Regions from separate parts of the Homo sapiens genome. Here regions 1 and 3 are each linked to region 2. Evidence: fine-mapped expression QTL. A gene starts in region 2. Each other region holds a variant in brackets. All regions are shown on one strand. Distances are from middle to middle. Region 1 overlaps FADS6 (fatty acid desaturase 6). Region 2 holds the start of NHERF1 (NHERF family PDZ scaffold protein 1). Region 3 holds the start of CD300H (CD300H molecule (gene/pseudogene)).

What was found.
Region 1: its variant is fine-mapped to the expression of NHERF1 in whole blood (INTERVAL, PIP 0.96).
Region 3: its variant is fine-mapped to the expression of NHERF1 in whole blood (TOPMed, PIP above 0.99).

Annotation. Positions count from the first base shown.
Region 1 is chr17:74,883,033-74,891,032 of GRCh38, forward strand. The region is part of intron 2 of FADS6 (fatty acid desaturase 6); the gene reads right to left. Among named protein-coding and RNA genes, the nearest start is that of FADS6, 6.6 kb to the right of the region's middle. The variant C/CA (reference allele first, on the strand shown) is at 3,206.
Region 2 is chr17:74,745,344-74,755,462 of GRCh38, forward strand. NHERF1 (NHERF family PDZ scaffold protein 1) reads left to right here and starts at 3,285. Exons shown (of 6, transcript NM_004252.5): 1 at 3,285-3,944. The coding sequence starts at 3,504. RAB37 (RAB37, member RAS oncogene family) reads left to right here. Exons shown (of 9, transcript NM_001006638.3): 9 at 1-1,992. The coding sequence ends at 68. SLC9A3R1-AS1 (SLC9A3R1 antisense RNA 1) reads right to left here and starts at 4,524. Exons shown (of 3, transcript NR_187307.1): 1 at 3,720-4,524; 2 at 3,230-3,584; 3 at 257-2,200. It overlaps MIR3615 (microRNA 3615), which reads left to right and starts at 3,270; the gene lies at 3,270-3,356. RefSeq lists enhancers at 1,839-2,434, 3,723-4,348, 5,840-6,381 and a silencer at 2,829-3,518.
Region 3 is chr17:74,561,373-74,571,936 of GRCh38, forward strand. CD300H (CD300H molecule (gene/pseudogene)) reads right to left here and starts at 6,137. Exons shown (of 4, transcript NM_001405511.1): 1 at 5,977-6,137; 2 at 2,547-2,903; 3 at 1,462-1,525. The coding sequence starts at 2,871. RefSeq lists enhancers at 7,484-8,214, 8,215-8,944. The variant G/A (reference allele first, on the strand shown) is at 6,175.

The sequences.
Region 1 (8,000 bases), 140 kb after region 2:
CTGCAGGTGATGACCCCGGCATCCAATGCAATGATTTTGTGTGTGTTTCTCTTAGAAGCATCTGCTCGTTAATAACACTGAGCACTCTCAGCCCGGAGCAGCAGCCAGGAGGGGCTACAGGAGTGGTCTGAGAGAGCAGGGACACCATCCCCTGACCAGTCCACAAGGTGGGGGCGGTGCCCTGGTGGGGGCCAAGAGCTTCTCCCTAGAGGTGACTCTTCTGCAGTATGGATCCCCAGTGGGATTCTCGGAAGCCGCTCTGAGCAGCAGCACGTGCGCTCTGACTCCTAGGAGAGTAGTCAGTCTGGAATGCAAAAGCCACGCTAAGGTGTTTCTTAAGCAGATACATGCAAATGGTATGCAGATGTAAGCCTCTTCCGATATTTTATCTAGGACAGAAGATGTGGCTAATTTTATTGAAGATGCTGCCTGTTTCTGGAACGACGTGAAAAGTTTCCCAATACCAGTCACTGCAAGCCAGGAAAGGACAGCGGAACACCCCCGCAGAGGGCTCACTGCACCAGGCTCAGCGCCCTTCACTCGCACACTTCCTGAGGGCGGTGGCGGATGACCACATGCTGCTGAGTTAGTTGGAAAATGGATGGTCCTGCTGAAAAAGATTATTTATTTTATTTTTATTCTGTTTTGAGATGGAGTCTCGCTCTGTTGCCCAGGCTTGAGTGCAGTGGTGAACCTCTGCCTCATGGGTTCTTGGTTCATTGCAACCTCCGCCTCCTGGGTTCTCCTGCCCCAGCCTCCCGAGTAGCTGGGATTACAGATGCCCACCACCATGCCTGGCTAATTTTTGTATTTTTAGTAGAGACAGGGTTTCACCATGTTGGCCAGGCTAGTCTCGAACTCCTGGCTTCATGTGATCCACCCACCTCGGCCTCCCAAAGTGCTAGGAACACAGGTGTGAGCCACTGCGCCCAGCCCCATTTGTTCTTTCATGCAGTTGTTTGTTCACATAAGCATTGTCGGACCCCCAGTGGTGCCCAGCACCATGCTAGGCCTGTGGGGTTCCCAGGGCCTTGTCCCTGGGAAAAGGAAGAGAATGCCATCAGCCCCATTTGATGGGCTCATTGCCGACTGTACGGGACCCACTCCCATCAGGATAAGGTGCTCTCGAGGACTATTCTTGCTGTGGCCCTCACCAGGGTCCCTCTCTCATCCCAAAGGTGTCTAAAACATGGCTGCATTCACACAGATCCTGCCCCAGAGCCAGCCCGAAGAGTTCCCTGAGGACTTGCACCTGGAGACTTGTACGCTCCCTGAGCAAGACTGACAGGTGTAGCAAATGAAAATACAGGATGCCCTCTTAATTCTGAATTTCAGATAAACAAAAAATACGTGGAATATTTGGGATATACTTATACAAAAATATTGGTTGTCTGAAATTCAAATTCATCAATGTGTGTTAGGCCATTCTTGCATTGCTAAAGAAATACCTGAGGCTGGGTAGTTTGTAAAGAATAGAGGTTTCACGGGCTCAGCGTTCTGCAGGCTGCACAGGAAGCTTGGTAGGGAGGCCTCAGGACGCTTGCAATCATGGCAGATCACAATCGTGACAACCGTGGCAGAAGTCCACAGGGAAGGGGAAGAGGGAGCAGGCAGTGACATGATGAAAGCAGGAGCAGCGAGACGGGGATAGGGGTGCCACACACTTTTCAATGACCAGATCCTTTTTCTTTTTTTTTCCGAGTCTTGCTCTCTTGCCCAGGCTGGAGTGCAATGGTGCGATCTCGGCTCACTGCAACCTCCACCTCCCGGGTTCAAGCGATTCTCCTGCCTCAGCCTCCTGAGTAGCTGGGATTATAGTCACACGCCACCACACCCAGCTAACTTTTTATATTTTTAGTAGAGACGGAGTTTCGCCACGTTGGCCAGACTGGTCTCGAACTCCTGAACTCAAGTTATCCACCCGCCTCGGCCTCCCAAAATGCTGGGAATACAGCGTGAGCCACTGCGCCCAGCCTAAATGACCAGATCTTTTGAGAACTCACCGTCACTCTCACCAAGACAACACCAAGGGGATACTGCCAAACCATTCATGAGAAACCCCTCCATGATCCAGTCACCTCCCACCAGGCCCCACCTCCTCCTCACTGTGCAGTAGCAGCAGCAGCTGGCCACTGGGGTTACTGCCTTTGTTGGCAAACTTGGGTTTATCTGCCTGTAGACAAGTCTCTCTCACACCAACAGAACTACCAGTACTTCCAAAACCAACTCACCTGATCTGCAACTCAAAGGCATTTTTTTAAGAAAACCACAAAAAAAAAAAATAAATAAATAAATATTACATTTCATCCTGAGATTTAGGTGGGACAAACATCAAAATCATATCACTGGACTTTTTGTATTTTACCTAGAAAACCTACTACTGAGGTCCATGGAGCCCCAGAAGCCCCCAGCATTCTGAAGCCAGATGTGAAGGGGCTGCTCATGCTGTGGGAGCCAGCAAGAGTCTGGAGAGAGGAACGGAAGCTACGCAGATCCAGCCCGGAAGCCCTCCTGCCAGACCAACGCTGCCCCTCTGACGACCCTCAATCCCTCTTTCTCATCCTGGTCATTCCTGCTGCCCACCACTCCTGCACCTCTTCCTTCTCCCCACAGATACCACCCAGACAACCACCACCTACACCCTCCTCCTTGAACCCCATCCCTGCCCGTCTGTCCTTACCATCTCTCAGCCTGCCCATGCCAACACCTTCGTCCCATCTTCTGCCTTGTCTGCCTCAAATCCAGTAGAGTGACACAGTTAAAACCCAAAACTGCATCATAATTTCATAATTATGGTCTTAATCCTGTAGTGTACTGTTTGTTTAAAAACTAAATGAGGGGCCAGGCGTGGTAGCTTATGCCTGTAATCCCAGCACTTTAGGTGGCCAAGGCAGGCAGATCACTTGAGGTCAAGAGTTCAAGACCAGCCAGGCGCAGTGGCTCACGCCTGTAATCTCAGCACTTTGGGAGGCCGAGGCGGGCGGATCACGAGATCAGGAGATCGAGACCATCCTGGCTAACACAGTGAAACCCCGTTTCTACTAAAAATACAAAAAATTAGCTGGGCGTGGTGGCGGGCGCCTGTAGTCCCAGCTACTTGGGAGGCTGAGGCAGGAGAATGTCATGAACCTGGGAGGTGGAGCTTGCAGTGAGCGGAGATCCCGCCACTGCACTCCAGCCTGGGCAACAGAGCGAGATTCCATCT[C/CA]AAAAAAAAAAAAAAAAAAGAGTTCAAGACCAGCCTGGCCAACATGGGGAAACCCCTACTAAAAATACAAAAATTAGCAGAGCGTGGTGGTGCACGCCTGTACTCCCAGCTACTTGGGAGGCTGAGGTAAGAGAATCACTGAAACCCACGAGGTGGAGGCTGCAGTGAGCCGAGATTGTGCCACTGCACTCCAGCCTGGGCAATACAGTGAAATCCTGTCTAAAAAAAAAAAAAAAAAAAAAAAAACTAAAAGAGGAAAATATTAGAGAAGAACATAGAAGAAGAGACTGATAACCTCCAGCCATCATCTTCCAGGAGGAAATGGGACATCTGCAGAAAGGGGTAGGACAAAGACCTCTCCCGATGCTTTTTGAATTCTGAATCATGTAAACACATTACCTATTTGAAAAATAAGTTAGTTTTGAAAACTACCAACTTAGATTACCACCTTTGGCCACAAGACCAAGTTCCAGGTCCTCTGCCTGCCATACGCCCCCTTTCCCCTCTCCAGGGTCCCCATTGGATTCTGGTGACCCCTGATTCCTGAGGGTCCCTCATGCACTGTACTGCTTCCCACAGCCTTTGTCCATACATTTGTTCTGTCTGAAGCCACCTTCCTGCTCCTTAGTTTGGCCAACTCTGTCCTGATAGCATCTCCCCTGGAAACCGTCCCTGGAGTTTCTCAGCCCTGCATGATTCACATTTGGGACTCGGGCACTTTTTGTGTCAGGGACTGTCCTGTGCACTGTACGACATTTAGCAATGTCCCTGGCCTCTACACACTAGATGCCAGTAGCATGCACACGCACACACACTCCAGTCTTTTTTTTTTTTTTTTTTTGAGACAGACTTTTACTCTGTTGCCCAGGCTGGAGTATGGAGTATATGGAGTATAGTGATAAAATCTTGGCTCACAGAAGGCTTGAACTCCCAGGCTCAAGCAATCCTCCTGCCTCAGCATCCAGCCTCCCAAGTAGCTTGGACTACAGGTGCACACCGCCACATCCAGCTAATTTTAGTTTTGTTTTGTAGAGACAGGCTCTCGCTGTGTTGCCCAGGCTGGTCTCAAACTCCTGGGCTCAAGCGATCCTCCTGCCTTGGCCTCCCAAGGTGGTGGGAACCACTGGGCCTGGCCCACACCCCCATCTTGATAGCCAAAAATATCTCCAGACACTGTCCAATGTCCCTGCCCTGCTCTTCCCACCCTGAGCTCTCAGAGCTTTCACTCCACCCTGGTCAATGCCCTCATCACATTCTGCCTGCCCCAGTCACCTACCAGCTGGCGTGGCATTGCACAAGTGGCTTAAACTCCCAGATCAGTGTTTTCTCATCTACAAAGTGAGGGTAACAGTAGCTTAACCCCCATAGGGAGGTGCGACTCTGAAATGAGGTGATTTACAAAAAGGATGCAGGAAGCAGCCAGTAAGCCTTAGCTAGTGTGATCAGGATTTATTATTAATTATTTTTAAGATGGAGTCTTGCTCTCTCACCAGGCTGGAGTGCAGTGGCACAATCTCAGCTCACCACAACCTCCGCCTCCCGGGTTCAAGCAATTCCCCTGCCTCAGCCTCCTGAGTAGCTGGGACTACAGGCGTGTGCCACCACGCCCGGCTACCTTTTTTCATATTTTAGTACAGACGGGGTTTCACCATGTTGGCCAGGATGGTCTCTATCTCCTGACCTCGTGATCCACCCTCCTCGGCCTCCCAAAGTGCTGGGATTACAGGCGTGAGCCACTGCGCCCAGCCAGGGTTTTTTATTATTTTGATGTCATTTGTATGTGTCTTTTTTGCACTTGACTCTGAGTCCCTGGGGAAGTGGAACGGGGTCTTATTCACAGTTATGTCCCCAGCATCTACTGGAGCATGGTGTAGGTGGAGCTGAGACACCACACACACACACACACACACACACACACGCGCGCGCGCGCGCGCGCAGAGTACCAATGTCCGTTTCCTTGGTTTTGATATTGAATGACACTTAGATAAATGTAACTATTGCGTGAAATTGGATGAAGGCTACACCAGACCTCTCTGTCCTATTTTTGCAAGGCCTGTGAATCTATAATTATTTTAAAAATAAAAAAGCTTTTACAAAAGTATATTTTGTACTGCAAATCTGAGTTTTCTCTCCAAATAAATACTAAAAATTAAAAAAATAAGAAGTTGTAGTTGAACTTAGGCAACAGCTCTCGAGGTTTGCGTGGGAACAGGCAGAGAGAAGGTTGGAGAGACGGCCTGGAGGGTAATGGTCACACTGAACGCCTGTGAGGAGAGAACGTTCCAGGATCACGACTTAGGCGGGGGTTCCTGGCCCTGTTTCCACCCCCACAAGAGCCCTGAAGGAAGCCGATGACATTCTCCTACAAGGTGCCCTTCCCCCAGGGCAGAGCTCCGGTCCAGCAGCTGTGGCTCCAAGCCTGCAGCACAAAGCCGACTTCACATGGAGGATTTGAAGCGGAGACACCAGAGCTTCGGAACTGGCAGGGCCTGTTCCCTCCCACTCAGGGGAGCATCTTGGATTGTGAGTGACATGCAGGAGAGTCCTTTCAGGAGTTAATCTTTCCCAAGCTTCGGGGCTTAAATTACGGGGGCCTGCCCATCCCACACTGCCCCCAACCTTCCCGTGGCCATCTGAGCATGGTACAGTGCCCTTCATTGGCAGTCCCTGAGAATACGCCTGGCAGTCCCCATGGTGACCCAGGACAGGGCTGGGCAGGTACTCTCGCTGGGTAAGACCAAGGTTATCAGTGGCAGGAGAGAAGGTCAGGGTTAGGCTACCAGGAGGGATAGAACTTTCCTATGTGGAACACAAATGGGTCTTCGGAGGTTGGATACTTTAGGAGAGAAACAACAGCCTGGAGTGGAAGCCTCCCCCTCCAACCTGTTTGCCCCTCCCCCAGATCCAATGGCCCAGCTTGGAGCTGGTAAACCCTGAGACAATCCCAGCAAAAGCTGGGCACCTGGGACCGCCAATGATACTCAGTTAATGCCTGAGGCTGCAGCATTTGCCAAACACCAAAAGGAGCCCAGGGCCTATGGCTGCATTATTCTGCAATGAAGATGTCTCCTGAGCGTCAAGGTTTGGGAAAAGCACAGATATCCCACAAGGAAGGATCCTAAGAGAGAAGGCACCAAGACATGGGAGGAGAGTCAGAAATCCAGGAAGGGTCTTGGGGCATCCTCTGAGGTCCTAGGCATCAAGAACGTGTCCTCTGCACCCTGCAGAGGCCCAGATGACACAGCACCCAACGCCCCAACATATACACAGCCCTGTTGAGCTTTGCAAACTTGCAGTTAAAAAAACAACAAAAACAAAACAAACAAACAAACCAAAAAAAAAAAAAGGCCGGGTACAGTGGCTCACGCCTGTAATCCCAGCACTTTGGGAGGCCGAGGTGGGTGGCTCACCTGAGCTCAGGAGTTCAAGACCAGCCTGGCCAACATGGTGAAACCCTGTCTCTACAAAAATACAAAAAAAAAAATTAGCTGGACATGGTGGCGGGTGCCTATAATCCCAGCTATTAGGGAGGCTGAGGCGGGAGAATCACTTGAACCCTGGAGGTGAAGGTTGCAGTGAGCCGAGACTGCATCATTGCACTGAAGCCTGGGCAACAGAGTGAGACTCAGTCTCAAAAAAAAAAAAAAAAAAAAAAAAAGACAAAGCAAACAACTGCTAACCCTTTCCTTGCAGCTGACCACATTAACTCCAGAGAAAGAAAGTGAAGATCATACTGGTGGAGGGTGTCAGGACCAGGCCCTCCATTAAGGTCTGCACTGTTTCATTTTATCCACATGCTGGCCTCATGAGGGAGGTCGTGTTATTTCTCCTGTTTATTAGGTGAGGAAAGTGACACTTAGATGTTGAATTAAGTAACTTGCTCAAGGTCAGGGCAGCCAGTGGGGCTGGGAGTTCAACCATGGCTTCAAAGGCTGGTCTTGAACTCCTGACTTCAAGTGATCCTTCCACCTCGGCCTCCCAAAGTGCTGGGATTACAGGCGTGAGCCCCACTGTCCTCGCCGCCACCCTGTGTGGCAGACAAGACCAGCACCCTCCTCCAGCAGTGCACTTGCCTCACCAATGTCAGCCAGACTGGGGAGACTGGTCTGCCCCTTCCCCCACACTTGGAACTGGACCCTCCCCAGAGGGTAGCTGGAGGGCACCTGTGGGATGAAAAAATCAAGACGCATCCCACGTAGGTCAGTCGGAGGCTTGAGTAATAAACTACTCGGGCCCTGTTCCTCAGCCCACTGCAGTCCACCAGGCAGGTGTCACGACATGAAGCGGGAGCCAAGCCTTTCCTCCCCAGCTTCGAGGGGGCTTGCAGGCCTGAACCTGGTTCCCTAGACAACTGCAGGGTCATCGTCAGCAAATATTGATGGAAGAATATTGCCAAGAGCTCAAGTCTGTGCCAGGAGCTGAAGAGTCAAAGAGGCAAAGATGAAGCCACTGGGCTTACGGGGACAAGACAGCATTCACAAGCAGAATGCAGCACTGAGGCTATCTGGGTATCTCAAGCGTGCTGGGTTTCCGGTGGAGCGCTCCAGTAGAGAAGCCCAGGAAGGCTTCTCAGAGGAGGCGTCCTTGGCCTCCTGCATTCATTTGGCACACATGATAGCTATGGTGTGGGTGTAACACTTTGGTGGGTATCAGATTCACCTGTGGAACTTGGTAAAAACACAGTGGCCCGAGTCCTCTTCTCCAGCAAGCCTGGGCCTCCAGATCATTCTGCTACACACCGAAGTTTGAGAACCACTAGGTTACCTCTGTGCAATAAATGCCTTGCAGCCAAGCA
Region 2 (10,119 bases):
CCAGCTTCCAGATCCGAGACTATGTAGAGTCCCAGAAGAAGCGCTCCAGCTGCTGCTCCTTCATGTGAATCCCAGGGGGCAGAGAGGAGGCTCTGGAGGCACACAGGATGCAGCCTTCCCCCTCCCAGGCCTGGCTTATTCCAAGAGGCTGAGCCAATGGGGAGAAAGATGGAGGACTCACTGCACAGCCGCTTCCTAGCAGGGAGCTATACTCCAACTCCTACTTGAGTTCCTGCGGTCTCCCCGCATCCACAGGGAGGGTAAAACACTTAGCTTTTATTTTAATAGTACATAATTTAATACCAAAAAAGGCGCCTGGATCCCCAAAAAACCGAGGCTGGGAGCTAGTGGCCCTTTTGCTTTCTAGGACTTGGGGGGCCGGCCCTCCCTCCTAAGCATAACAAAGGTGGTGTTGCTCCAGCTCAGCCCCAGGGGACACAGATGCACTTTGGGGGTGAGGGCAGGTAATGACTCCATCGCACCCTCAGTTCAGCTGGACAGAGGCTCAGGTGACCCCAGCCTTCACTGTCTCCCGCTCTCCAGGAGCTTATCTTCGCCCCATCTCCCAAATAAGTGGGCCCTTGTGCTGTGAGGAAGACCAAAGCCTCAGGGAAGATAAGAGATATGGAGATGGGAGGGGGAGGACAAGGGGCAGAGAGTAGGGTCTAGCTGGCTATCTCTGGCCTTACTAACACCCCCCTGGAGGCATGCCCCTTTTCTCCAGCACACAAGCACATTGGGGCACCTGGAAATATTGGTTCCAGGCTCCTGTTCTCTGGACTTCAGATCCTGGGGGAGCCCCTCCCCCCCCTGAATCCCTGGCTTAGCTACCTTCCTGCCTGTGCACCTAAAAACCTCAGGTCAGAACTAGGAAAAGAGTTTTGTTTTTATTTTTTTGAAATGGAGTCTCGTTCTGTCGCCCAGGCTGAGGTGCAGTAGTGCAATCTCCGCTCACTACAACCTCCACTCCCTGGGGCTCAAGCGATCCTCCCACCTCAGCCGCCGAAGTAGCTGGGACTATAGGTGTGTACCATCACACCTGGCTAATTTTTGTATTTTTTGTAGACACAGGGTTTCGCCATGTTGCCCAGGCTGGTCTTGAATTCCTGAGCTCAAGCAACCTGCCGGCCTCGGCCTCCCAAAGTACTGGGATTACACGCAGAAGGCACCATGCCCAGGCTAGATGTGTCTTATCCCAATCCTTTGGCAGGCATGCAGCTCCACAGGCGATTTCTTCAAGCAGCTGAAGTGTTTAGCCCTCCTGGGTTAAGAGCCAGATAAGGAGAAATCCCTTTCCTAGGTTTGGAATGTGTTGTGAAAAAAAAGAGAAATCCCTGGCTCCTGGAGCTGGTGGGAGACAAGATTAAGCAAACCTCCCCTGACATGTATCCCTTTGACCCCAAGCTCTGCCTCCTCCCTGACCACCCATGCCCTTTCCTTTAACTTCTCAAACAGATACCAGGGCCTAAACTGCTTTACCTCCCCTCCTACTGAGTCAGGTTAGGTGGTGGGAGGTCACCCATTTCCGAGTTAAACCAATGCAATATGAGTAAAACAAAGTCATGTGGGTATGTCTGGGGTAGAGAGAGGGGTAGCAAGTTCATGTGTCCTCCTTGGTCACATATCTCCCAAAGCTCCGATCCCTGCCATGGGAAGTGGACAGGAAACATGAGGTCATGACCTGCAGGCATCTTTACTGCAGCTCTGCCGGCCTGGAGGGGGAGAGGGGGAGGAAGAAGTATGCGCTGCACATTTCTGAGGCTACTGCATTTGCTTTCAAGGCAGAAATCTTGCTCTGAGCAGTCAGCGGCTCCAGTTTGGGCCCGATAAGGAAGTTCTCCGTGGCCTCCCTCAGGCAGAGCAGGGAGGAGGCTGACATTGCCAGTCTCTTCTGGGGCCCAAGGCAGGTTGCAGGAGATCCAATCCCATAGACAGCTCTGGGCCTCTTGCATTTGAGTTTTTCAGAATTAAACTGCAGTATTTTGGAAAGCACATCCTGTCCACTGTTTCTTTGAAGTGAGTGGGGGGGGGGGGTCTTGTTGAAGGAATTGTCATTCACTGCCAAAATCATTCCATCCTCCTTCCTCAGTGTCTGTCCTCAGATGGTCAGCTCCCCGCTCAACAGACTGTCTCCCGCCTCTGTGACCAGCCTCTCTTTGGCAAGAGGGAGCTAGAAGGCTTTACAGTCCTAATCATTTTTCTGTTGGAAAAAAAAAAAAAAAACCAAGGCTCCTTTCCCTGTGGCGTGTACCCAGAGGTTGATTACCTGAGTCTGTCCTGCCTCTCCCCACCCCACCTCCCTAGCCAAACGCTGCTGCCAAAGCCCACGCTATTGCCCTAGATGGCCTGTCTTCAGCGGGCTGCCCCTCGAGGTCCCAGGCTCTCCGCGGAGCCCTCACCTTCCCAGCAGGGATCAGAACCTGCACTCCTCTATGCGAGTCCTGGGACAGCACAAAGTGGATTAGGGTTAGGGTTCCCACAAACGGAAAAATGTTATTCAAACAACTCTGTAGGGTCCGAGGAGGCCCTCCGTCTTAATTCTCGAGACTGACCGGCCCTCGCTGCCCCGAGCGGGAGCAGTTGCCCCGGCAACAGCCGCTCCCTCTCAACTGGAGCTGCACCCAGGCTTTGGCTAAAGGCTGTTAAAACGTTGGCCAGGTGCGGTGGCTCACGTCTGTAATCCCAGGGCGGATCACCTGAGGTCAGGAGTTTGAAACCATCCTGGCCAACATGGCGAAATTTCGTCTCTACTAAAAATACAAAAATTAGCGGGGCGTGGTGGTGCGCGCCTGTAACCCCAGCTGCTCGGGAGGCTGAGGCAGGGGAATCGCTTGAACCCGGGAGGCGGAGGTTGCAGTGATCCGAGATCGCGCCACGGCAGTCCAGCCTGGGCGACAGAGCGAGACTCCGTCTCAAAAAAAAAAAAAAAAGTTAGGGTCCTTTACCCGAGGGCCGGCTTTCCTCACTCCCCGCCACAGGTAGGGGAAACCAGGCCGGAGCCGGCGGGCCCACCCGCCCAGAACCGGGAATTCGGCGAGCCCCGCCCCTGCCACCCCAGCGCCGGCCGCTCGGTAACAAACACTTCCACTTCCTGAGCGCTAGTCTTCGCCCGCCGCGGGGCGCCGCGCCGAGCGCAGGCCCCGCCCCGCGCGTTCCCAATGGCCGGCGCCGTTCACCCGGCCGGAGCGCCCAGGCCTGCAGCCCCCTATTGGCCCGCGGAGGTCCCCACCCTCAGCGCGGCCCCGCCCCCGGGGTAAGGAGCCGGGGCGGACTCTGGGACGCTCAGACGCCGCGCGGGGCGGGGATTGGTCTGTGGTCCTCTCTCGGCTCCTCGCGGCTCGCGGCGGCCGACGGTTCCTGGGACACCTGCTTGCTTGGCCCGTCCGGCGGCTCAGGGCTTCTCTGCTGCGCTCCCGGTTCGCTGGACGGGAAGAAGGGCTGGGCCGTCCCGTCCCGTCCCCATCGGAACCCCAAGTCGCGCCGCTGACCCGTCGCAGGGCGAGATGAGCGCGGACGCAGCGGCCGGGGCGCCCCTGCCCCGGCTCTGCTGCCTGGAGAAGGGTCCGAACGGCTACGGCTTCCACCTGCACGGGGAGAAGGGCAAGTTGGGCCAGTACATCCGGCTGGTGGAGCCCGGCTCGCCGGCCGAGAAGGCGGGGCTGCTGGCGGGGGACCGGCTGGTGGAGGTGAACGGCGAAAACGTGGAGAAGGAGACCCACCAGCAGGTGGTGAGCCGCATCCGCGCCGCACTCAACGCCGTGCGCCTGCTGGTGGTCGACCCCGAGACGGACGAGCAGCTGCAGAAGCTCGGCGTCCAGGTCCGAGAGGAGCTGCTGCGCGCCCAGGAAGCGCCGGGGCAGGCCGAGCCGCCGGCCGCCGCCGAGGTGCAGGGGGCTGGCAACGAAAATGAGCCTCGCGAGGCCGACAAGAGCCACCCGGAGCAGGTAAGCGGGGCCCAAGCCGCGCAGGCTGGCATGGAGTGGGAGGAGGATCCGGAGAGACCCAGGTGCCCCGGCCGTCCAGCCCCGCGCCCGCCGTCGTTTTTCTGAAACTCGAGCTGCGAGGGGGAGACCGCTTCCGCCCGCCGACCAGGCGCCCTGACACATCCTAGGCAGGCCTGGGGCTGCGTCCCGCGACCTCCTCTCCTTCCCAGGCTGTGCTGGGAGCTTGAGCGCCTTTGCCGCCTGCACCTCTTGTTCCCTGGCCTTTGGGAGGGCGGCGCAGGGGAACCCAGCCCCCTTCCCTCGGGTCTGTGGGTGTCTGCTCCCGTTCCTCGGAATCCCCCAATCCTGCTCCTTCCCTGGTGCCCTCTCCTCGTTCACCCCAGTCCGCAGATGGGCCGGGGAGAAAGGGCTCTCCGCCCCAGAGGTGCCAGCTTCGCCCGCCACTCCTACTTCAAAAGCTAGAGGAATAGCATTACTCCTCCTGTGTGGAGCCCCGGCGCGAGGAGGCCCTCTCCGCAGCCCGCCGGTGTGTGTCCTGAACTTCAGTCCTGCTGGACTTCATCCTCCCGGAGTCCTGTGTGACTTCTAAGGGAGAGGAAGCCCCACCATCTCAGGGCGGTGTGGGGGTTGCCTGGCAGGGAGGAGGAGCCAAGGCATCTCGGAGTGGTGGTTCTGCCACCTCAGAGGATTTACGATTCTCAGGAATGTGAAGAGTAAGCGCCTAGAACTGTATCTGGGAGGGAAGGGGAAAGACCTTGGAAGAAGAAAAAGATGGCCATGGGGAGGAGAGAGAGCTCCTGGGGCTCACGGCCCTGTGTGCGCCAGCGGAGCTCACGGTGAGCCGGTGGTCTTGCCCTGGCCTTGCCATGGTCACTCTGGTGCCCACACAGCCAGCAGGCCGGTTGCTTTTTGCCCATGTTTGGTGTTTGCCCATGGGATCCCAGTTTGGATCAGCTGCAAGAGGGGCAGCTGGCAAAATAGGAGTTGTGCTGAGCCTCCTGTCCCCAGAGAGTGGAGTGGTGCATTGTGTAGGGCAGGGCGTGAGCCTCCCAGGACCCCTTCAGCTTGCACCACCAGCTCTCCCTGGTGGCAGTGTCTGATGGGAGTGTCCGTGGGGCTACGAGGAGCCTCCTGGACAGAGAAAGGGCACAGTTCGGCATTAAGGTAGAAGGCAAAGCCCTAGAGGATCAACTGGTTTGGTGGAAGTGAGGTCACCAGAAGCCCTGTCCAGCCAGAGCTGGGTGCTGGGAATGCCAGGGCCACCAGGCTCCCACTTCCTGCCCCTGCCAAGCTGGCATTGGCAAGGGGAGGGGGAAGGGATCTGAGCACCCGGAGCAAGGAGGTTGATGCCAGGGAGTTGGGGCCGATGATCTCCAGTCCCAGGCAGAAATCCAGTGTGAACTTTGTGCTGAGTCCATCGATCGATTTGACATTCTTTTTTTTTTTTTTTTTTGGACTTTGGCACCCACACAAATACCCACCCACCCCCACCCCCCACAAGTTGCAGTCTCGTTCAGCTCCTCCCTTTGCCCTTTTGGTTATGCTGCTGGGTGCCAGAGGGCCTGGGAGGCGAACGTGGAGGCCTGGCATAGCACACGTGCGCAAAGGCAGCAGCTTTGAGCTTCCTGGGTGAGCACAGACTCAGATTCCTGCATGTTTTGGAGGGACACCTACATTTGTGTGTACTTTGTTAGGCCAGGAGATGAGAGGAGAGCCACCAGCAAATCCTGGGGACACCATCACCAGCCAAGTCCCAGGACTTCTGAGTTCTGGTTCTCCCATCTGTGAGATGGAGGCATTGGGCGATGTGATGCCTGCCTTCTCTAGAATTATAGAAATGACGTGAAGCACTTGAGCCCCTTACTAAATGCTGAACTGCACTCCTTCATGCCTGGCGTTTGAATCCCAGCTCCTCTAAACTGACTCCTAGTCAACACCATTGAGTCCTTCTAGCAGAAAATCCTCTCCTCTCAATCCTGTGTGTTGAGCATACAGACACCCATGTGGTTATTAGAAAAAATGTTAACAGACATTGTAAGAGTTCGTTTTTCTAAAACACACCCGTTTCCTACATAAAGCATCAAATGGAGGTTTGCCAATTCGTTTTAGTCTGAATTTGTGTGCAAGGTGGGGCTGTTCCCTTGTCTTCATTAGCCCTCCACTTACTAAGTGATGATATCAGTGGAAAAGTGTGGCGCAGAGAGTGGTTGGCTGGGTGGCCTCTGGCTGGGAAGACCAGCTGTGTCCAGAACCACTCAGGGCAGAGGCTGAGGGGTGCCTGTAACACTGGCCATCCCCGCTGGGGAGTCTAGGCCTAAGGAGGTGGAAGTGGCTCTCCAGCTCTGCCCACCGGCTTTGCTTTGTGGATGGCCTTCCCCGCCTGCCCCGTGGGGAGAGAGGAGCAGCAAGACCCGCCCTGCTGTTCCCCTGCTTAAAGCCCTCCTCCCCCCATTCACCACCAGTCACAGGATGAGGCCTAAACCCTTGAGTCTGGGTTCAGAGTGCCGGCCGGGCAGAGCCGAGCCAGCTCAGCTGTACTAGCCAGGCTGTGCGAAGCCAAGTTACCTCACCTCTGTAAGCCTCCATTTCCTCTTGTGTAAGTTGGGGGTTATGGCAGCTACCTCGGAATTGCATGAGGCTGTGTGTAAAGCACGTAGCTCAGTGCCTGGCACTGAGTCCAGGCTCAGCCAGCCTTTGCAGTTGGTATTGGAATGAATACATATTTCATAGTGATCATTGCACACCTATCATGGGGCAGCTAGCGCTGGGTCAGCCTGCCTAGTTGGGCAAATGCCACTGTGGCCAAGCCTGGCACACAGTCAGTGCCTGATCGATGGTCACTGTGGGTTAAGAATGATACGTTGTGGCCAGGTGTGGTGGCTCACACCTGTAATCCCAGCACTTTGGGAGGCCAAAGTGGGAGGATCGCCTGAGCCCAGGAGTTTGAGACCAGCCTAGGCAACATGACAAGACCCTGTCTCTATTAAATTTTTTCTTTTTTTTTTTTAAGAGTTATATGCTGTTCCATGGCCCTTCTCCATCTGGCAGCCTGTTCTCACCACTGCCTCCCTACCCCCAAAACCACACCCAGGGTCCGAATTCCCCTCTAGCCTCTAAGCCTTCACACCCTGACACTTCTGTCCCCTCCCAGGGAGCCTGTCCTTAATCCAGTAGGCAGAGTTAGCATTTCCTTTCCTTCACTTTTTTTGTTTTTGTTTTTGTTTTTGTTTTTTTTGAGACAGATTCCACCCAGGCTGGAGTGGTGTCGCAACCTCGCCTCGCTGCAGCCTCGACCTCCAGGGCTCAATCGATCCTCCCACCTCATTCTCCCTAGTAGCTGGGACTACAGGCATGCACCACTATTCCCAGCTAATTTTTAAATTCTTTGTAGAGATGGAGTTTCACCGTGTTGCCCAGGCTGGTCTTGAACTCCTGGGCTGAGGTGATCTGCCAGCCTCGGCCTCCGCCTCCTCTTTGTCCTTACATCTTTTATCGCTCTAAACACACAATATTTTAATCATCTGTTTGTGACCTTTTTCTCCACTACGTGGTAAGCCCAAGGGCATCAACTGTGGCCTATTTGTGTTTCTATCCCCAGCGCTGTCCTTGGCACATGGTAGGGAGGCTCTCAAAAACAGTTTTTGAATTAATGAATGAATATATAACAACAGTCAGGGACCTTTGTCCTCATTCAGCTCATCCCGCCCCGCCCAGAGATTGGAATTCCAGATAGAACCTACCCACTCTTCTTTCTTGCCTGCTAGCAGCTTCTATTTGAAAACTAGAAAGCCAAAAGTCCAGGCTTTGGGGTCAGCCAGATCAGTGTTTGAATCCCAGCTCTGCCGTGTGCTGGTTCTGGGATCCTGGGAGTTCATTTTTCCCTGCAACCCTCAGCCTCCACCTCTGTGAAAGGCACTGCCTGCAGGGTTATTGGGAAGATTTGGTGGCATGACAGGTTTGTAAATGAAAGTGCTAGTTTGGGGTGTTTCCTGCCAGCCCTGACCCTGATCCCAGAGTCAGAGTGCAGGCACCCCAGGGAGCAAGGTGGGTGGTGGGGCACAGTTAGCTGGAGGGCCATCAACCTCTTTCCCAGGGCGGGCGGGCCATTTTACACCAACCAAGTTGGAGCTCTGGTAGGGCAGAACAGAGCTTGAGCTGCTGGGTGTTTGGATTTGAAATGGACAGGGTATGTGATTGTTTGTGTGTTGGGATCTCTTTCTTTGCTGGCAAAACAGTGTAGCCCCTGGTTCTTACCTTCAAGCTCCTGTTAACTCAGTAATTCTGGAGATGATTCTCTTGGAGATAGATGGGGGCTTCCTGGCCGGGCGCAGTGACTTGTGCCTGTAATCCCATCACTTCGGGAGGCTGAGGCGGGAGGATCGCTTAAGCCCAGGAGTTTGAGACCAGCCTGGGCAACATAGTGAGACCTCGTCTCTACCAAAAAAACAGGGGGAGGGGGGTGAATGGGGGCTTCCTTCTCAAGGAACTCCATATGTCTAGATGGGGTCCTTCTCCCCTTTCCCAGATGTCCCATCTCAATGGTCCCTGGGAAAGTGGGGTGGGAAATTAATAAGAAACTCAGGCCAGGCACGGTGGCTCACGCCTGTAATCCCAGCACTTTGGGAGGCCGAGGCGGGTGGATCAGTTGAGGTCAGGAGTTGAGGTCAGGAGTTCAAGACCAGCCTGGCCAACATGGTAAAAACCCATCTCTACTAAAAATACAAAAATTAGCGAGGCGTGGTGGCAGGTGCCTGTAATCCCAGCTACTCGGGAGTCTGAGGCAGGAGAATGGCTTGAACCTGGGAGGTGGAGGTTTCAGTGAGCCGAGATCGCGCCACTGCACTCCAGCCCGAGCAGCAGAGTGAGACTCATCTCCAAAATAAAAAAAAAAGAAAGAAGAAGCTCAGCCGAGGTCTTGTTGGTGCTGCAGGACTCTTTACAGGGAGAAACCAGAGCTCTAGACCCCAATAACAAATGTTCCTCTGTTTTCGTTGCTCTAAGATAGAGTGGCCCTACCTGGAAGGAAACAGGTTTGTACAGTGCCTTTAGGCACTCTACCTATGACATAAAGATGTTGACATGCATTTCTTTCTTTCTTTCTTTCTTTCTTTCTTTTTTTTTTTTTTTTTTTTCCTGAGACAGTCTTGCTCTGTTGCCCAGGCTGGAGTGCAGTGGTGTGATCTCGGCTCACTGCAACCTCCGTCTCTCAAGTTCAAGCAATTGTCCTGCCTCAGCCTTCCATGTAGCTAGGATTACAAACACCCGCCACCACACCCTGCTAATTTTTGTATTTTTAGTAGAGACGGAGTTTCACCACGGTGGCCAGGCTGGGTGGCACCTGTCACAACACCCTGCTAATTTTTGTATTTTTAGTAGAGATGGGGTTTCACCACATTGGCCAGGCTGGTTTCAAACTCCTGACCTCAGGTAATCCACCTGCCTCGGTCTCCCAAAGTGCTGGGATTATAGGCATGAGCCACCACACCCAGCCAATATGCATTTCATTGTCCCCCAGACAAATTAGCTATTGTTTTCTCTATTTTGTAGGTTGACAGTAAGTGTTCAATACATGATAGCTACTATTTGTGTCTAGCACTGTGCTAAGTACTAACCTTGCCTGTCTCATTTAATCCACATGACCACCAGTGAGGCAGATATTGGCCCCATTCTCTGCCTATGGAGGCTGAGGCTTGATCAGTTAAGGTGGCCATGGCGGGTCCCAGGACTCTGAGCTAGCGACTCCTCCCACACAGCGCAGGGGTGTGTCTTGGAACCCAACCCTCTGACTCTAGTGCCTGCACAGCCATTTGGCCACATGAGTAGGCTGTGCTTGAAGCCTGACTCTGCCAGGTGTTTCTGCCCATCATATTCTGAGCCACAGCTGGACCATCACAGTGGTATAAATTCAGGCTGCTTGAACTGGCTTCCTGTAAGGATCCAGGGCTTCCAGGTGCTCCTGTCCCTAGCAGGGCATCCTTGCAGTGCCTCAGCCCATAAGTGGCAGGCTCCTGTCCCCATCCCTTCTCACGTGATGTGATAGGTCAATCTGGAATCTGGTAACCAAGTATCTACCCCCGCCCTCACTCCCCAGAACCTGCACAGAGAGCCCCCCTCAAGGGTGGTCTTCACTGTTGACCGAAGCCTTCCCCTCATGGTAGGACAACTCACCATGTCC
Region 3 (10,564 bases), 180 kb before region 2:
TCCCCAAAATGGGCCGCTGTGCCATCTCTCCACCTTCCCAGCCCTCTACCTGCAGGGCTTGTCTGATGCCCTCCCTGATCCTCTCTAAGACGAGTCCCTGTAACAAACCCTGTTGGCGCCCTGCCCCATATCACCTTTGCCCACTTGAGCTCCTGGCAGCTGCAGGCAGTCTTGGCCCCACCAAGGATTTCCCAGCTCAAGCTCCCCATCTCTGCCTGAGGTTATCTACAAGAGTGCACACATTTTCCTGTGCAGAGCAGGCCAGATGGGCCACAGAATTCATGCCCCCAGGAGTGCCTGCTGCCTGGAAGACTCTGTCTCCAGTTCTGAGGAACGTTCTACACAGTCTCTCATAGGGTGCCCAGAGGGGTTAATCTCCAGTGACTCCAGTTACTACGGGGATAACCCCTTCATTACAGCACATTTCACCGCCCTTCCCCTTTCCTGGTCTCACTTTCTGCTCTCTCAATGTACTTCTTGAGATTACCTCTCAATAAACAAATTGCTCCTAAGTCCTTGTCTCAGGACCTGATTTGGGGGAAACCCAAACTAAGACAGTCCCTTTGTTCTTTGTTTCTGTGGAACATCTTGTATTTCCTTGATAGCCCAAATCATGCCCCACCAGCTTCCCACACACTCTGGCACCCTATCTCTTTACACCTGCTTTATTTTCCTCCACAGTAATTATCATTCGTTGACATATTTCCTTGATCTATCGTCTCTCTGTCTCTATTACATATCTCTCTCTGCCAGCTATCATCTCCATCTGTCTTTCCAGTCAGCCAGCCAGCCATCTCTATCATCTTTCATATCATATCTATCATCTGTCTGTTTATCTATCTATCCACCTATCTATCTATCTATCTATCTATCTATCTATCCATCTATCTGTCTGTCCACCTGTCTGTCTGTCTATCTATCTATCCATCTGGCCATTGCCTGAATCTACCTATTTGCAACTTCCTCAAGAGCACAATCTTGCCCCTTTGTTCACTGTTGCATCTCTAGAATCTCCATCAGTTTCTGGCGCATAACAAATAAACACCTGTTGGCCGAGCACGGTGGCTCACACCTGTAATCCCAGCACTTTGGGAGGCCGAGGCGGGCAGATCACGAGGTCAGGAGATCGAGACCATCCTGGCTAACATGGTGAAACCCCCGTCTCTACTAAAAATACAAAAAAAAAAATTAGCCGGGCCTAGTGGCGGGCGCCTGTAGTCCCAGCTACTCAGGAGGCTGAGGCAGGAGAATGGCGTGAACCCGGGAGGCGGAGTTTGCAGTGAGCCGAGATCGTGCCACTGCAGTCCAGCCTCGGCGATAGAGCTAGACTCTGTCTCAAAAAATAAATAAATAAATAAATGTTGAGTGGGTGAATAATCAAGGAAACCTGTGTCTAGGAAGCCCCACCCTAGGAAAGAAGCTGCACACATGGCAAAAGACACTGGGACACGTGCATTTTACCCTTGGCATTGGCTGGGCCTGGTGGGAGATGCAGGTGTCTTCACAGAGTTCTCAGTACTGGAGGCTGAGGATAAAGAACAGAGGTTCAGTGCCCTACGCCTGACTCTTCCCAGCTGAGTACCTGGTACCTGCATGGTTCTGACTTCATAAAGCAGAGGACGCTCAAGGAGGCAGCTGGACAGATGTTCTAGGACCATCGTCTTCCAATAGGCAGACCAAAGCCTGACTGGAGTAACAGAGCATCCCCCCAACCCCATCCCAATGGATGCCCTGCTCTGGGGCCGGGTGGGCATTTTATAAACCCAGACCAGAGGATGACCACCTTCTCCCATGTTGGTGTCCCCCATCTCGCTGAAAATCAACATGCCGAAGGTTAGGCTTAGGTTCCAAAACCCCCATCCTTGCCAGTGTATCCACACACCACCACTACCCTCCAGCACACACTCTCTGTCTCACACACACTCTCACACCTGCACACACACTCTCACATGTGCACTCACGCAACTTCACAAATACACTCACACGCCCACTCACTCACACACGCCTGCTCTCACACACACTCTCACATGCACACTCACACACCTGCTCTCACACACACACCTGCTCTCACACACACTCACACACACCTGCTCTCACACACACCCACACACCAGCTCTTGCACACACTCACACACTTGCTCTCACACACACTCACACACTCACACACCTGCTCTCACACACACTCCCACACTCACTCACACCTGCTCTCACACACTCACACTCACACACACTTGCTCCCTCACACACTCACACACACTCACACACACCTGCTCTCTCACACATTCACACACACCTGCTTTCACACACACCTTCACACCTGCACTCACTCTCACATGTTTGCACACAACTCACAGTCACACACTGAAACACACTTACACTGTCCCACTCATTCAAACACACATGTATTTCCCACACACATTCACACAACATACTCTGTCCTGAGTCTCTGATGCACCACACTAGGCCCAGTTCTTCTCTCCTGGGCCAAAATTTCTGTGGCTGCTCTGCAGAGATGGCCTCAGATGCCTGAGAAAAGAGGCTCTTACCCGATGAGACCAGCACTTGAACCTGGAAGAAGGGATCGGGCAGGAAACCAGACAGGCCATCTTCCTGCAGTATTGTTGCAATCCCACATCGGTATTTTCCTGCATCGTCTGCCGTGAGGTTCTCCAAGGTCACGGTGAAGGTGAGGTCTCCAGGATGGTCCGTGATGATCACTTGGTCACTCCTCACCACTCCCTCAGACCCTCCGGTCTCCACCATTTCATGCCAAATTGGCAAGCATGGTTGTCTGCACCAGTATTTGTTAAACGTCTTGTATTTCTCTTCATACCGACACTGAACACTCAGGGATTCCCCCACGGCGCCCATCACGGTGCTGGGGCCACTCACAGTCAGACAGCCTGGAAAACACAAGTCCGTTTCCCCGTCTTCACCTGGAAGAGTCTGGACCAGTGGAACCTTGAGTGTCAGGTCCTCTGCACGCCCAGTGTTGCCTGAGGCTGGAGGAGGGAGGAGTCGGGAACCAGGGAGCTATGGGCTATTTGCAGGGGGAGACCCAAGGAGATGCCCGGTGTGGGATCCTGAGACTCCAGAGGCCATGCCAGCCTGGGTGTGCTCAGCCATCTTATAATATCAGGGGGAGAGGCTTGACCTCGGTGGCCTCAGACAGGTTCTGGGTCCCCCAGAAGTGTCAGTCCTGAGAAGAAACACCTGTCCTCATCGAACACCAATGATTGAATGAAGCCACTAAGTACACTCTGAATAAATGGATGGCTGGAGAGATAGATGGATGGATGGATGGATGGATGGATGGATGGATGGACGGATGGATGAAATAGGAAAGGAAATAATATTGAGAACCAGGAAAAACCAGAAGCAGCCCAGTATGGAGGGCAAGGAGGAAGCCTGGGGCTTCTGGTTCTGCCCCTTTCCCAAATCATCTGTGGGCCTCATACTTGCCATCCCTGCCCATATAGATGAGGCCTCCTGCTCCCAGGTCTGGGTCACAGAGAATATGGGGGCTGCCCATGGGGATATCAAGGGGCCATGTAGAAAGGAGTTGTTCTTGTGATTCAAGGACATTTACGCCTGGAATTTTCCCCCGGGACAGAATCCTGCAGCAACACTCGCCATTGCCTAACATCTGCAGGGCTCCGCTCCACAGGGACACCCATCAGAGCTTCCTTCCCACCCCCAATTCTCTGCAGCACCCACCCGCCTTGGCATGTCCTGGGCCTCTTCTCCAGGTCCTCTGCCCCCTCCAATATTTCGACATTACTCTCCCTCTTCGAGTCCCCTCTCTCATTCCTCCACCCACTCTGCAGGCTCCGGGTCCAAATGATTGGGACCCAGCCCCATCAACTCTCTGCTTCCTGCCTCGGGGGCCTCACCAGTCCTAAACAGCTGCTGTCTCATCTGCTCTTGACAGGGAGGTGGTTAACTCAGGACAAAACGGCTATTGAGAAATGGTTTTGGCAAAATACCAAGCTCCTGAAAAGGAATTGTGGATGTAATCTGTCTACCTATCAACTATCTATCTATCTATCTATCTATCTATCTATCTATCTATCTACTATCTATCCATCCATCCATCTTTCATCTACCCACCCATCCATCTAGGTAATATATTGCCATCCACTGATGGAGAGGCTTTGCTATATTTTTATTGTGAATTAAAAGAAAAATCTGGCCAGGTGTGGTGGCTCATGCCGATAATCCCAGCACTTTGGGAGGCCGAGGCAGGTGGATCACCTGAGGTCAGGAGTTTGAGACCAGCCTAACCAACACGATGAAACCCTGTCCCTATCGAAAATACAAAAAATTAGCCGGGCGTGGTGGTGGGTGCCTGTAATCCAGCTACTCAGGAGGCTGAGGGAGGAGAATCACTTGAACCCAGGAGGTGGAGGTTGCAGTGAGCCGAGATCGCACCACTGCACTCCAGCCTGGGCGACAGAGTGAGACTCTGTCTCAAAAAAAAAACAGGAAAACTTTATCTTTTGCATCTTCATTTTCTTATCTCACGTTTTCTCACTTTATTTCCCAGAAAGCAGGCTCGAGTGGCCCACTGACCTATTCTGCATTAGAAAGCTGTCTGCCTCTCTGAAGCAGTGATTCTCACCTGGGGGGCAGGGGGGCGGGGAGGGGGCGGGGGGGCAGGGGGGCGGGCGGGAGAACATTTGGTAATGACTACAGATATTTTTGGTTGTCCCAACTTAGGGTGGGGAATTGCTGCTGGCATCTGGTGGGTAGAGGCCAGGGATGCTTCTAAACATCTTACAATGCACAGGACAGCCCCCAACACACAGAATAACGCAGCCCCAAATGTCCACAGTGTTGAGGTCCACGAGCTTTCCCAGGGAGCTAACTGCCTGCCAGGCACAGGCTTAGGAGCAAGGAAGGGGTGGGCACACCCAGTCCTCTCCTGAAATCGCTGCTGCTCTCAGCTCAGGCTCTGGGGGCGCTGTTAGCCTGCTCTTTCAGGTCCTTAAACTTCTCTCTTAATGATTTGGGGCTAATTCCACAAGGAGCAAAAACATTGTGGGGCACACACTGAATCCCACCACAGAGCCTCCCTCTCCTTGGATATTCAGTCCAGACCCTGACTCTGAGCCAACATGGGCAGCCTCCTCCACCTCCACCCCCACCATCTTTTACGGAGCTTCCCGCCTACCCAGCCTTGCAAAGAAACTGACTTTCTCCCTCCACCATCATTTACGGAAACTCTCGGACCAGGGCTGACCACAGGTTCCCAGCTGTCTCACCCTTCTGGGGGCCCATTAAGTAGCAGCCCTGGGGCCAGCCCAGACCTGTGGGGACACCCAGGGTTCCCACGTGGGGATGCAGCATATGCCTCCAGATATGTAAGTGAAGCTTTACAAGGAGGCGCAGCAGACATTGACATTGAATTAGAGAAGGAGCAATGATCTTGGAAATAAAAGTATTTAGGTTTGGACCTTGACTGTGCCTTTTATAAACTGTTTAATCTAAATTATTTGCACCTCTAAGAGCGAGCTTCGGTCTCTTGTTTTCATCAGGATTGCAATAAGAATTAAATGAGATAGTGGGAAACAAGATATGTATTACAGTGATTAGCCTAGTAAGTACTGGTTTTCTGTCCCCTATTCCCCCTTCTCTCTGATGGATCGTGGTGGCATTCCTGATCTTAATAATGACGGTAATAATGATTAAAGTTGCCAAATCTACTTAGGGCTTACTGTGTGGGAAGCAGTTTACCGTTTAATCCCCACCCTATCCCGATAAGGAGATTTGAGAAGCTTCTATGCACACCTCACTCCCTCTTTCTTGATATCATTTCTTCCTCTTGCCCCTCGCCAGCCTTTTCTCATGCCTGCCTCACCCTGACCCGCCAGAGCAGACCTCCCTGCACCCAGGACCTGCCCTGCTCATCTGGGACACAGAGAAGGAGCAGAGCTGAAGGCAGCATGGCAGCCCCAGCCCTCTGGGTCATCTCACCAGCATGGAAGTCCCTTGTGGCAGCAGGGTCTGAGGCTCTTTTTCCTTCTCACATCTCTCGTTTCCTTCTCTGGCCTCTTCTGGGTTTGGTTCTCAGAGCTGGTGAGAGTATGGAGGAAGCTGGGGCCATGGGGCACTATGTGGTCAGGTGAAACAATTTTGAGAACTTGCTGAAGTTCTTCCTAATAAAACATGTTT[G/A]CATTTGCTGTTCCTCTTTCTGTTCCCAGTAAAGACAATGTCCCTCCCATTACCCACAGCTGACAGGCCTGCCCTTCTCCAAATCACAGCATGGCCCAGGACCAGTGAGACTGGGCCAGCTGCCATCTGGATTTTCTGGGCAGGTCCTCCCCTCTGTGAATGGCCAGTTTTCTGTGGCCAGCATGAGCCGCCCCAGGGTATGGCTCAGCCTTCACTGGATGGATGAGACTGGCTATTTGCAGAGCCCAGTGTAAAATCAAACCTAGGTTTCCAAAATTATTAAGAATTTCAAGATGGTGACAGCCAAGCATGAAACGTGGGACCCTTCTAAGAGCCGGGCCTGCGAGACTGCACAGGGTAGGGGCACACCCACGATGCCCGCTGGTCTATCTCTGATCCTTGGTGGTACAGATAGGCTGGGTGCAACCTCAGAGGCTCTGACCTCTTAACCCCTCACTCTTGCTCTGACCTCAGCAGACCCCAGAGGTCCCTGTCTTGGCCACGTGCCTGACTGTTTCCACAGACCTGGCACCACGCAGAGCTTGGTGGACCATCTATAAGCCTTGCTTTTGACCTGTGTGGCTCTTCCTGTCGCCCAAGATGACCACATATAAGAGTTTCAATATATCAAGAGCTAACTCGGGGGAACCTGGCCAGAAGTGTGCCTGATATACACAGAATGGCTGTGGAGGATTTATAAATGCAAGCACAGCTTCAGAAGGCCTCACTCAGGGACTTAGATTTCTGGAACTAGGAGACTCCAAATTCCTGGCATTCTGTTATCAAATGTCTCCTCCTTGGTGTTTCAGTAAATGTGTTTCCTGCTTGTTCATTTTTTGCTGCATGTGGAGTCCTCATATTTCTGTGTGTGTTCACATGTGTGTATATGGGTGTGGTATGAGGGATATATGTGTAGTGTGTGTGGTGTGGGTAGTGTGTGTAGTATGTGTGGTATGTGTGTATGTAGGTACATGTGATGTATGTGCATGGTGTGTGGGATGGTGTGTGTGTAGTGTGTGTGTATGTGTGGTGTGAGTGGTGTGTGTGAGATGTGTGTAGTGTGTGTGTATGTGTGTGGTGTTTGGGGTCGTGTGTGTGGTGTGAGTGGTGTGTGTGGTGTGGGTGGGATGTGTGTAGTGTGTGTATGTGTGTACATGTGGTGTATGTGTGTGATGTGTGGGGTGGGGTGCATGTAGTGTGTGTGTTTGCATGTGTGTGTGGTGTGTGTGCACAGGTGGTGTGTGTGTAGTGTGTATGTGTGTGCACGTGTGTGGTGTGAGATGTGTGTACATGTGGTGTATATGTACAGTATGTGGGGTAGGGTGTGTGTAATGTGTGTGTGGTGTGTGTGATGTGAGTGGTGTGTATGAGATGAGATGTGTGTAGTGTGTATGTGTGTACGTGTGTGTGGTGTGTTGGGTGGTGTGTGTAGTGTGTATATGTGTGCATGTGTGGGAGTGTATGTGGTGTGTGCGTGTCCATGTGTGGTGTACGTGTGTGGTATGTGGGGTGGTGTGTGGTGTATGTGTGTGGTATGTGGGGTGATGTGTGTAGTGTATGTATGTGTGTGCATGTGTGGGCGTGGAGGGTGTGGGTGGTGTGTGTGTACATGTGGTGTATGTGTGTGGTGTGTGTATGTGTGTGCATGTGTGGGGGGTGTGGGTGGTGTGTGTCTACATGTGGCGTATGTGTGTGGTGTGTGGGGTGGTGTGTGCATGTGTGGGCGTGGGGAGGTGTATGGGTGTGTGTGTGTGTACATGTGGTGTATATGTGTGGTGTGTGGGTTGGTGCGTGCATGTGTGTGGAGGGGAAGCAGGAGCTGGGAGTGATAAAGATGTCTCCCCTTGCAGCCTGCAGAGCCGGTTGCGAGCCCCGCCCTCTGTGCCTAGCTCTGGGCGCTAAGGAAAGGCTTGCCTGGCCCTCCCTGACTCTGCGTCAAGGGCTGCTCAACGTGCCTTTCTTGGGAAGAAGGGATCTGAGTCTGTGAAGGAGATGACGCACAGCTGCAGACTTTTCCAGAAAACATTCTCGCCATCCTTGTCTGGACAAACCACCGGGTGCACAGGGTTGTATTAGTCAGCTCTTTCTGGCTCACATTGCCATAGCAAAACTCCTAATCCCAGCATGCTGTAACCACAGAAGCTTGTTTCTCGCTCGTCTATACGCAAGCGGTGAGTCAGCATTGCTTGGGCACCAGGCTGCGGAGCCCAGTCCGCTAGAGGAGAGGGAAGGCACCGGGTGGCTCTCTGAGCCTCTGCTCAGAAGGCGCACATGCGGCTCCTGCTCACCGTTCATCGTCATAGGGTCAAGCCTGAAGTCAGTGGGAAGGAGAAGCACAGTCCTCTTACAGGACAAGGCGGCAAGTCACTGACCACAACCACAGAACCCACTACTGGAGGTTCCCTAACCGGGCTGGAAGGGTGCCCCGCAGCACACCGACTCCGTGCTTCTCGCTCATCCAAGGTCGGGGCAGGGAGAGGCTGCAGGGTCTGCTTAGAAACAGCCTGTGTGTGTTTCATTTTTTTAGCTAGGACCAGACAGTTTGCCAAATGCAAAGGACATGGCAATGCCACAGGGAACCCACCTTTGAAGCAGATGTACTCTGGGCCCTGGAGTCCCCCAGGAGATGACAAATTCCTTGAAGAGATGACCCACATCTGGGACATCCAGGCTTTTTCCATGTCAAGGCCAGCATCTGGAGCCGCTGTCCCTTCCCCAGCAGGCCCTTGTCCTTCTGTCTCTGAAACCTGTCCTGGAAAATGCTGTCCGCTCCAGGAGGGCAGAGCTAGGGGAGGACTGAGAATAATGAACACTGGCCATGAGGCACAGGAGGGCGGGGAGCCCGGGGCCCTGCCTGGCACTGCACCACACTGAGACCCCCACCATCGCTGCCCTTGAGGGACAGCTCTTGGGGCTTCCAGAAAGTTAAGATCTCATCAGTGAGGGGTGCGTTCTTAGGGCAAACTCGGGGCATGTGATGTGTAGGACAGTGTGAGTAGCCCACACATTTCTCTCTGCCTTTCGGGGCTGTGCTTGTCTTTCTGCTTCCTCGAAAACCGTCATCCTCCCTTCTCACTCTCCCAGGATGAGCTCAGACCACACCTCTCCTGGAAGGCATCCCTGCCTGCTCCAGGCCTTCCAGACCCCTCCCTCTGGGGTTCCTGTTACCTGCAATGCTTATTTCTGTATTTAATCTCATGTCCCTGTGCTGTCATTGTCCTGTTGCATGGCATCCATTTCCAGGTGAGGCTGTAGCCTCCACAAAGGCAGGACCAATCTGGGCACCCGGAGACGCAGACAGAGCTCGGCCCCAGCCTTGTGAGCTGAATTGGAGGGTGAGAGCTCCGATCCTTCCATATTTTCCAGGGGAGGGGATCAGGAATGTATTAAGGCATTGGGCCTCTCTTCTCTCACCTCTACTACCCGACGTCAATCCATTTGGGGAGTAGTTCTCAGTATCTTGTGCATCATGGTGAGAATGGGCAAGTGCCCAAGGATGGTGGACCCCACTGCCCACTTTCTTCCCTCCCCACTGGCACTCAAGGGAGACGTCACCAAGAGGGCAGCCTCCTGACCGGCTCTGGGCAATGGATGCCTCTTTGGGATCTTGTTACAAATACAGGGCTCTCTAGGGAGCAGGGTGTGGGGAGGGTCTTCCCAACATGGGGGCTGGGGTGCTATAGGGAGCCCGGCTCAGAGAGGGTCTCTACCTGACTCTGATGATGTGGGCCATGTAGCACAGTGAGGAAGGTTCTGGCCATAAGCTGGGAGCCCTGGCTCAGATTTTAAGGTCTGCTGTTCACTAGTTATATGACTTTAGGCAAATCAGCAAAAGTCTCTTAGCATCAGTCTCCTCATCTGTGAAATAGGAATAAAAATATTCACCCTGCTCAGTCCCAGGAGTTGAGCAAAGGCATTTGAAGGTGGTGGCATCCCTCTGGGAAACTTTCCTCTTTTGATCTTCTACGTACCATGCACTCTGTATATTTAAATCCTGCATACCCATCCCAACACCCCTGCCAGGTCACTTTTAAATAAGATGACTGGAGCTGGAAAGACGAACTAAACTGTCATGATGGGAAGTGGGGAGGTCAGGATTTGAACCCAGGTCTTCGGTGGGGTCCCACCTCTGGCTCTCATGATGCAAGGTACGGATTGCAACACTCAGGCAGGGGTGAGATGGGTTGAGAGATGGCAAGTGGAAGAGGCCTCCAAGTCTTATTTCATTCAATATCTGTTTGCAGAATAGCAGGAAGTATCTTCAGGGGAAATTAACAACACAACAAAGTCTGCTTCTGGGTGTCTGCTATGGATTGATGAGTTCCCCCAAAAATTCATATGTGGAAGCCCTAACCCGTAATGTGGTGATATTAGGAAATGAGCCTGTGGG